Linked DNA regions of Homo sapiens: region 2 is linked to region 1. The links come from fine-mapping of genetic effects on gene expression. A gene starts in region 1. The other region holds a variant in brackets. All regions are shown on one strand. Distances are between the middles of the regions.

Evidence for each region. PIP is the estimated chance that this variant, and not a neighbour inherited with it, causes the effect. A credible set is the group of variants that fine-mapping cannot tell apart.
Region 2: its variant is the best candidate, but not a certain one, in a credible set for the expression of SLC25A38 in lung (TOPMed, PIP 0.66).

What each region holds. Positions count from the first base shown.
Region 1 is chr3:39,381,005-39,385,394 of GRCh38, forward strand. It overlaps SLC25A38 (solute carrier family 25 member 38), which reads left to right and starts at 2,366. Exons shown (of 7, transcript NM_017875.4): 1 at 2,366-2,789. The coding sequence starts at 2,721. It overlaps LOC105377644 (a long non-coding RNA gene), which reads right to left and starts at 3,321. Exons shown (of 3, transcript XR_007096252.1): 1 at 3,237-3,321; 2 at 1,949-2,040; 3 at 1-116. It overlaps LOC105377037 (a long non-coding RNA gene), which reads left to right. Exons shown (of 3, transcript XR_001740661.3): 3 at 1-148. RefSeq lists enhancers at 2,675-2,854, 2,875-2,974, 2,985-3,034, 3,505-3,574 and a silencer at 3,265-3,414.
Region 2 is chr3:39,497,395-39,501,784 of GRCh38, forward strand. All of the region lies in intron 2 of MOBP (myelin associated oligodendrocyte basic protein), which reads left to right. Among named protein-coding and RNA genes, the nearest start is that of MOBP, 32 kb to the left of the region's middle. The variant C/T (reference allele first, on the strand shown) is at 2,029.

The sequences.
Region 1 (4,390 bases):
AAACCAAAGCCCCTATCTGAGCAGCCTCTGTCTCTCCCATTCACCTCCAGCTTCCCATGTGGACCTTTGCCTTTTCCTTCTTGGATGGTGGAAACTCCTCCAGATGTCAAGACTTGCTGTGAATAAAGTTTTAAGAGGAGGTCATGTATCCAAACTGATACATGTGTATTTCTTCCTGGGTAGAGGGTGTCTACAATCCTTGGGATGGGAAAACATCATGTAACCTGATCATACAATCCAGAAAACATGGGCCACTTTGGATCTTTGAGGGACCAGTGTGTAATTGAGGGAAGTTAGGTCATAAGAGCCAAATCACCTTCCCTTGACTGCAGATAAATCCATTAAGGCTTGCCTTATGCTAATGACCTTGTTTTGAATTAAAGTCACAATGTTTTCTTTTTAAAAAAAAAAATTCACTCCTCCAACTTTGCCATTAAGTACTGCTCCAAACCCCCCACTCATCTGCCAATGGGTGATGCTCTTTCCCCATGATCATTATATATCTCTGCATCCCCACAAACATCCAGGGGAGGAGATGTGGGAAAAGAAGGGCCTGTGGGCTTTAGAGTTATGAGTAAGCATGGCAGGAGCAGATACAGAGGAGGGAAATCTGCCAGCTGCCACCCTTGAAAGCCAGCCCATTTCTTCTGAGCCCACAGCCAAGCAGGCATACCTGGAAGGGTGAGGGAGTGGAGGGCCGGCTTTCACTCTAGATCCCACCTGTGTTCCCACACCCAGAGTGGCCAAGAGCAGTCTCTAAAATACGCCAACCCATGATTTCTCAAAAGTAGGGATTCTTGTCTTATGGAATCAGTGCAGCGGGGGTGGGTGTCAGGGTGGAATTAGGTCTTCCTTTAAAAAGAAGTTTCAGTGCATAGTTATCAACATCACTACTGCACAAAGAAAAATAAGCCTTGCAGCTTAGAACAAAGGGTAGCAAAGTATTCAATCACCAGGCAGGTTTGTAATTTTGTTTCGTTTTGTTTTTTGAGATGGAGTCTCGCTCTGTCGCCCAGGCTGCAGTGCAGTGGCACGATCTCGGCCCACTGCAAGCTCCACTTCCTGGGTTCACGCCATTCTCCTGCTTCAGCCTCCCGAGTAGCTGGGACTACAGGCGCCTGCCACCACACCCGGCTATATTTTTAGCAGAGACGGGATTTCACCATGTTAGCCAGGATGGTCTCGATCTCCTGACCTCGTGATCGGCTCGCCTCGGCCTCCCAAAGTGCTGGGATTACAGGCGTGAGCCACCGCACCCGGCCTGTAATTTTTTTTTTTTTTTTAATGTTTATACTTTCCTTAATCCTTTCTGGGAATAACCTCCTCTGGGACCACTTTCCTTCCTGTTCTATGTACCTCAGAAGCACAGGAATGAAGCCTGAAAAAATATTATCTTGCTCCCTAAGTCACTTTCCTTTCTGATCTAGTTCTTGGGTGATGAATGAAGGTGGAAAGTAGCGAAGGTTGCTATGAAAAGCTTGGACTTTATTACCAGGGCCACTGCATTTTCAACAGGAGTGTCAGGATCCCAGCAGTAATGCTTTTCCATGGATCAGCCAGACAGGCATAAGGGGAAGTTGGGAGACCAAAAAAGCCATTGACAGATTCCAGGTGAGCAATAAACCAGAATTTTGACCAACTAGACCAGCGCTGTCCTACAGAAATGTAATGGGAGCCACATGTTAAAGTTTAAATGTTTTACTAGCCACATTTAAAAAGAAACACATGAAGTTATTATTATTTGTTTTAGAGACGGGGTCTTGCTTTGTCGTCCACGCTGGTCTCCAACTCCTTGGCTCCCTCAAGCAATCCTCCAGACTAGGCCTCACAAAGTGCTGAGATTACAGGCCTGGGCCACTGCCCCCGGCCTGAAGTTAATTTTAATATTTCACCTAACCCAATATATCCAAAATATCATTTCAACATATAAAAATTATTGAGATTTTACCTCACCAGTCTTAGACATCCAGCGTGTGGTTTATGCATACAGTACATATCAATTCCACACTAAATTTTCAGCATTTAAAGGGAAATATGGTCCTGAAAAAAAAACAACAAAACAAAAAAACGCCTGTTTAAGGAGAAAGCATTCCACACTGCTTGTTTTAATATAATTAAAATTAATGTATCAATTAATAAATCAATAGCCCACGTTGGCTAGTGGCTGCCTTACTGGGCAGACCAGGTCTGGATTGTAAATACGTTCAGACGTTCCACGCAAAAGCAAAGTTCCCTGCAGACGCTCCATTAAGTTCTGGGTGCAAGGAAGCGCGGATCCTTCAGTTCTGGGCGTTTTCACCAGGTGGCACTCAGAACACCCTCACGTGACAAGCGTCCCACCCGGAAGCGAAATCTCCCCTTCTACAGAGTTCCTCCGGCGCTTCCTCCACCCCGGGATACACAGAACCTCATCTCCTACGGTGCTGAAGCCTGCAGCAGGGCAGGATGGGCAGGAGAGCAGAGCCGCGGAGTCTGCGGCGCGGGTGAAGAGCGGCGCGTAATTCCCGCAGCAAGATTGTTCCGCGCCCGCAGCCCCTGGACTAGCAGGATCCGAACCCCGGCGGCTGCGTGCTTATAGGCGCAGACGTCAGAGAGCCCGCGGCTTAAAGCGCGTCGCCTGGCTAGCGCCACCCCCTAGCCTTCTTCAAGGCCTCCAGGGCTGGGCCCAAGCGCCCGTCGACGGCACCCTGGGCCCAGAGGACTCGCGGGCCTCATCTCCAATGATTCAGAACTCACGTCCGTCGCTGCTGCAACCCCAAGATGTCGGAGACACGGTGGAAACGCTTATGGTGAGGGCACTGCGGGGAAGGAAGGGCAGGGGTCCGAACCGCGGGCTCGGGCCGGAGAATTCGGGGCGTTGCTAAGGCTCGGCTACCCTTTTCCGCGCCCCAGGGTGCGCTCAGGATTTAGGATGCGGCGGGAGAGGAGTCTGACTAAGGGAATTGAGAAGGGGGCAGGGAGTGAGGAGAGGCCAGGAGCTGCAGGCCAGCCCTGGGGGCAGGCGCTGTAGGGCCGATGTCCCGGTAAAGGGCGGAATTGCCGGGGCCTGGACTGGACGCGTGCCGGGGAGTGTGCCCGCGCGGCCCCCACAAGGTGCGAGTAGGCTGCCAGGTGGAAGGGCACCCGGGCAGATTTGGGACGGTCACAAGGCCTGATAATAGCGCTGACGCTGAGAAGCCGTTGATGCCGCAGCGAGCTGGCCGGGTAGCGCTGTGCGCCCGCGGGCGGCGGCCTACCTGGAGGGGCCAGTCGTGGCGGCACCCTTCCAGCCTGTTGGGACGGCGCGTGGTCCCCCAGCGACGCCACGCCTCCTCCGGCGTTCGATTGGTCATCGTGCCCGGGCCGCCGGGCCGCTATTGGTGGAGGCGGAGGCGGGGCTGGCGGCGTGGTTGCCCGGTAGGTGGAGTCGGGGTGCAACCAGTCTTTAGACGCTAAAGGCCTGAGGCCACTGCAGCTGCCGCAGCTCTCCCTCTGAGGTCTTGCGCCCGAGGTAGGGGCGGCTTTTATTTTTTTTTTTAATCCTTAAAGGCGGAGACGGCGGCGGTGGCGACTTTACGTTGACGTCTTTGAAAACCTGCTTACCTTTTTCAGGGCTCTCCAGCCCTCGCCTCCAGATGTGAATTGGACTTAGGATAGTTTTTTCAGGGCAGTAGGAATTGCTTGTGGATCCAGTTTGTACTCTTATGTGCTACTTATTTCGTGTGCGTATTATTGTTTATGCCCTCTTCTTTCTCCCCTTAAAAAGAAACTACTTTTTTATTTACCTTGAATATATTTTTGAGCTTTCTTTTCTTTTTTCTTTTTTTTTTTTTTTGAGACAGAGTCTCGCCCTGTCGCCCGCGCTGGAGTGCAGTGGCGTGATCTCGGCTCAACTGCAACCTCTGACTCCCGGGTTCAAGTATTTTTCCTGTCTCAGTCTCCCACGTTGCTGGGATTACAGGCGTGCGCCACCACGCCCGGCTAGTTTTTGTATTTTTAGTAGAGAGAGGGTTTCACCATGTTGGCCAGGCTGGTCTTGAACTCCTGACCTCAAGTGATCCGTCTGCCTCGGCCTCCTAAAGTGCTAGGATTACAAGTGTGAGCCACCGCGCTTGGCCTTGAGCTACTTTTTAAAAGTTAAGTTCACTCGCAAAGGATGTGTGCCATTCACCATTGACAAAAATCTTAAGACCATTCAGTATTACCTGTTGGGATGGTTTTTGTTGTTGTTGTTGTCTTGTTTTTGCCTATTAGAAGTTGATCTATACTGCTAGTATAAATAACATCTGCTCTGTGCTAATGGACTGGGAAAAGTACAAAGCTAAAAAAGTTATTGGCTCAATAACTTGAGCCAATAACATGTCTAATCACTGTGCTGTGAAATAAAAGACGTTAAGAAGATATTTCCTGC
Region 2 (4,390 bases), 120 kb after region 1:
CTTTGAGACTTATCCCACCCCTGGGTCCATCTCTAGTCCTCTGAAGTCTAGTCTGGGCCCAGCACCTGGACTCCTATTCCTTGGGAGGAGGGTTGAGTCTATAGGAAGCACAAAACAGTGTTGGACCTGTCTAAAGTGCTTGGGATGCTGGAGTCACACAGATGTGGATTCAAATCCCTTGCTGCCTCTTACTGGCTTATGGACTTAGTCATGTTCTGTAGATTTTCCATCTTTAGTTTGTTAATAATGCCACATTAAAAAATGAGATAAAGTATGCAAAACAACTATACACAATGGTGCTCAGTAAACTGTTACTTCTTCGCTGTTAGTTATTTGCTTTATTAAAGGAAAAACTTTAATAAAACAAATTCAATTTAACAGAGTTTAATTCAGCAAAGAACAATTCACAGATCAGACAGTCCCCAGAACCAGATTAGTTTCAGAGGGACTCCAGGGCCACCACACGGTCAGAAAACATCGATGGACAGAGAAAGGAAAGTGACAAATAGAAACCAAAAGTGAGGTACAGAAACAGCTGGACTGCTTACAGCTGGAATTTGCCTATTTGAACACTGTTGGCTGTCTGTGATTGACTAAAACTCTGTGATTGGTATAAGACTGGGTTACAATGTACCCATCCGGTTAGGTTACGGTTTACTATGTACAAATAAACCGTTAGGTGGAACTTAAAATATGTAAGGATGTGGCTTTAGGCTAAACTTAATTTAACAGCCTGTATTTCCAAGGAATTTACTAGCAATCCTGGTGTGTTATAAAACGATGACTCTGATTTAGCATGTGAGGCTTAGCGTTTTTAAATTGGAGGGTGGCATGGGGCCGATAGTTGGGGAAGCAGTATATAGAACTGCTTAAGCAGGTACCCCAACTAAGTGCTGTATTTCTGCCACCTGGGAAAAGAGTTAGGAGGGCAGTTTTTTGTTGTTGTTGTTTTTGTTTTTATTTTTTTGTTTTTGGAGACGGAGTCTTGCTCTATCTCTCAGGCTGGAGTGCAGTGGCGCGACCTCAGCTCGCTGCAATCTCCGCCTCCCGGGTTCCAGCGATTCTCTTGCCTCAGCTGCCCGAGTAGCTGGGATTACAGGCACGTGCCACCACACTCAGCTAATTTTTGTATTTTTAGTAGACACCGGGTTTCACCATGTTGGCCAGGATGGTCTCAATCTCCTGACCTCGTGATCCGCCCGCCAGTCTTTTCAAAAATATAAACATTTTACTAAAGGAGGGAGAAAACATTATTTTGAAAGTTGGATGCATTTTCAGGTGGTTGTGTTAGGAATGGCGAGGTTCTTCCAGGGAAGAGAATTACTTTTTCCTTCAGGACCATGCATCGATGGATAACTAGAGGTGATGCTGCCCCCTGCCGGACATGGTCGGGGGAGACAGGGAGTGAGGGAAGTTGTCATGGAGTAAGAAACAATTTTCCCCTGAAGTGCTGGGGGAAGAAATGACTGGGCGGGGGTGCAGATGGGCATACAGTGACCCAGGCATTACATCAGCTGGAGCAGTGAGTGGGATTTGAGAATTCAATTAGGGAAGGAATTCAGAGTCACAGTGGGCTTCAAATCTCCTTCTTATCACATACTAGTTATTTCTCAAACAGTTGGAGTAAGAGCTAAATTTTCTGTTATTTGTGACGGGTGCCTGAGCCGTTTGGGAAAAGGTGACCCTAGAAGGCCAGAGGAATTGGGAATGCCTGGGTTGCCTGTGGAGAGTTGAGTAACAGTCTCCATGTGCTGGGCACCTGAAGAAATTACTCCTGAAGGTTAATCCTAAAGTGTTTCACTTCATTATTTCCCATGGGAGGAGAAACTCTAGCTGAACTTCGCGACCTATGTAGGACTTGGGGAAGGGCTTAGCAGACGTTTAGGGTCTTTGCAATGAATCTGACCCTATAAGTCAGCTGCAGCTTCTCATTGGTCTATACATACCTGTCTGGGTAAAGGGCTCCTTTGAATATATCTGATCATCTCCTTTTGAAAATTCAGCAATTTCTCTCCTAGGAGACTGCTA[C/T]TCATCCTACCTTTCTGAATACCCATTACTCCTTCTTCCTGCAGCTTGAAGGCAGGTCCACGCCTCCTCCTGGAAGCCTTCCCTTGACTGACTCCTCGCTGAGTTCACAGGTATCTCATCCGTGCCCGACGTTGTGCCCCCTTCCATGAGGTGAAGCGCTCTCAAAATGAGAGCTTTAGGTCCTGAGTTTAGAATGCCTGTTTCTTCATGGATGTCCTTGGCTCTTTAAACTCATTGTGTCTCAGACCCATGAGATGATCTCCCTCCTTCTCATCTACTTCGACCTCTGATTAGCTGATGGCATGACTGTGTTCCCAGTCACATGGGCTAGACACTTCACCTGCCTCATTGCCTGTGTCCTGGCTCTATTATGTCTTCCAATTCTGCAATGCAGATAGGATGAGGGCTCTCGGGGGTAATGCAATTCACTGTGTATCTGCTTAGGTATCAGTCATTCCCAAGCCCTCATCTTTGGCCAGATGAAATGCCTCTGCCCATGAAGTTTCACCTTGTTCTCTAGCCCAACATATTGCCCTCTCTTCTGTGGACTTTTCATGCCATTGCACCAGCACATTCTCATGTTGCAGAGCATGCTGGCCTTGTATGACACTCACTGATGTCTGTGGACATTCCTCTACCTACAAGGTGAGCTCATTGTGAGCAGGATGTTTATCTGCTCTACCCACTTCCTCATCTCAGTGACTTGTACTTATTTGGTCTCAGTAAATGAAGTTTTTCTGGCCATTAGCACATTATGTGCATTCTAATCACTTACTTGCCTGTATCTCCCACTGGTGGATAAGTTTCTTGAGGACTGGACTCAGCATGATTTAGCTTTGTGTCCAGTATGTGAACTGAGCACTGTGCCAGGCAAAACCAAAGTGTATAGTAAATGTTAAATTAAATGGGTGAAGGTAACTTCATTTATTATTTAGTATTTATTACACCTTAAATAACTCTAACATTAAAAGTTTAGTGTTAAAAAAATGAAAGATTTGCCAAAAGCAGATGAGCCTATAAGGGAAATGGACAAGGAGAGACTAGAGATAGAGGAGGAGATCTAGGAGAATGTGGTGTCACAGGAAAGGAAAGACTTTAGATGGAGAGAGACCAAATATGAAGGCAATTGGTTTAGCAGCATGGAGGTCTGTGGGGAGCTATGTAGAGTCATTTTTCCTTGGGAGGAAAGGGCCAGGAGCCACAGTGGGGTGCACTGATGAGTGAGTGAGTGGAAGATGTAAAGATGGAGGGAAAAAATATTAATACCTTTTCAAGAACTTTACCTATACAAAAGAGGAGGGTAATAGGGAAGCAAAAAGACACGGGAGCAGGATCCAGAGAGGATTTTCTTTTAAAATGGGGCATCATGAGTATGTTAAAAGCTGACAGAATGGGGAAAACTTTCTGGGAAAAATACAAAACCTTTAATAAGATCTAAGATACTTAATTACATAAAACTATTTTTGCATGATAAAATCAAGTGAAACATTGGGAAAGAATATTTTTAACATACATAACAGATGTGACACACAATTTTGATGATCACAAACAGAGGTGCAAAAACAACGTATTTGTAACTGCATTCTACCTGCTTCTCAGCTGTCATTTCTATTTGTAGTAGAAGACAACCACACCAACAGACAAAAAAATTAAAATATCCCCTCAAAGTTATTTAGTTATTGTTCTGTACTCATCCTTAAAAACCCAGATTATAGGTTCTGTCTTCAAGGAATCCATCCTTTTTCCATGCTTTGTACACACTTGTATTGGCCAACATAACAGTGTTTTGTAATTACATACTGCACATATGCATCTCCAACCTGACCCTGAGTTTGTTGAGAGCAGAGACATTCTCAGTATCCAGTTTATGCCCATTAACTAAGTTGATTCCTGTTGATTGATAGTCACGTAAGTCCCCTGTGGGCTTCGGTGTTTTGCAGTGTTAGGTAGGACTATTTCTGCATCTGTCACATTCCTAGAAGGACTGTTTTCAGTCTCCAGCAAGCTCCCCTGTTGCCCCTTCTGAGTCGGAACCCACCTTCTCCAAATATAACTATGCTCTGATTTCTAGCACCATCGATTAGTTTTGCCTGTTCTTGAACCTCCTGTACACACAGCTTGTTTTCTTGTGTCTGACTTCTTTTGTTCAATGGTATGTCTGTGAGATCAAAATGTGTTGATGTATGTCAGCAGGTCAGCAGTTTGTTCTTTTTCCTTGTGTAGTATTTTATTGCATGAATGATGATTGTTTTAATAATAAATAATAATAAATTTTTTATTTTGCTTTTTAGAGAAAAGGCTTTTCCTAACTCTAGAATATTATTTAGTCAAGGATATGTTTGGTTTTAAATGTTTTCCTATC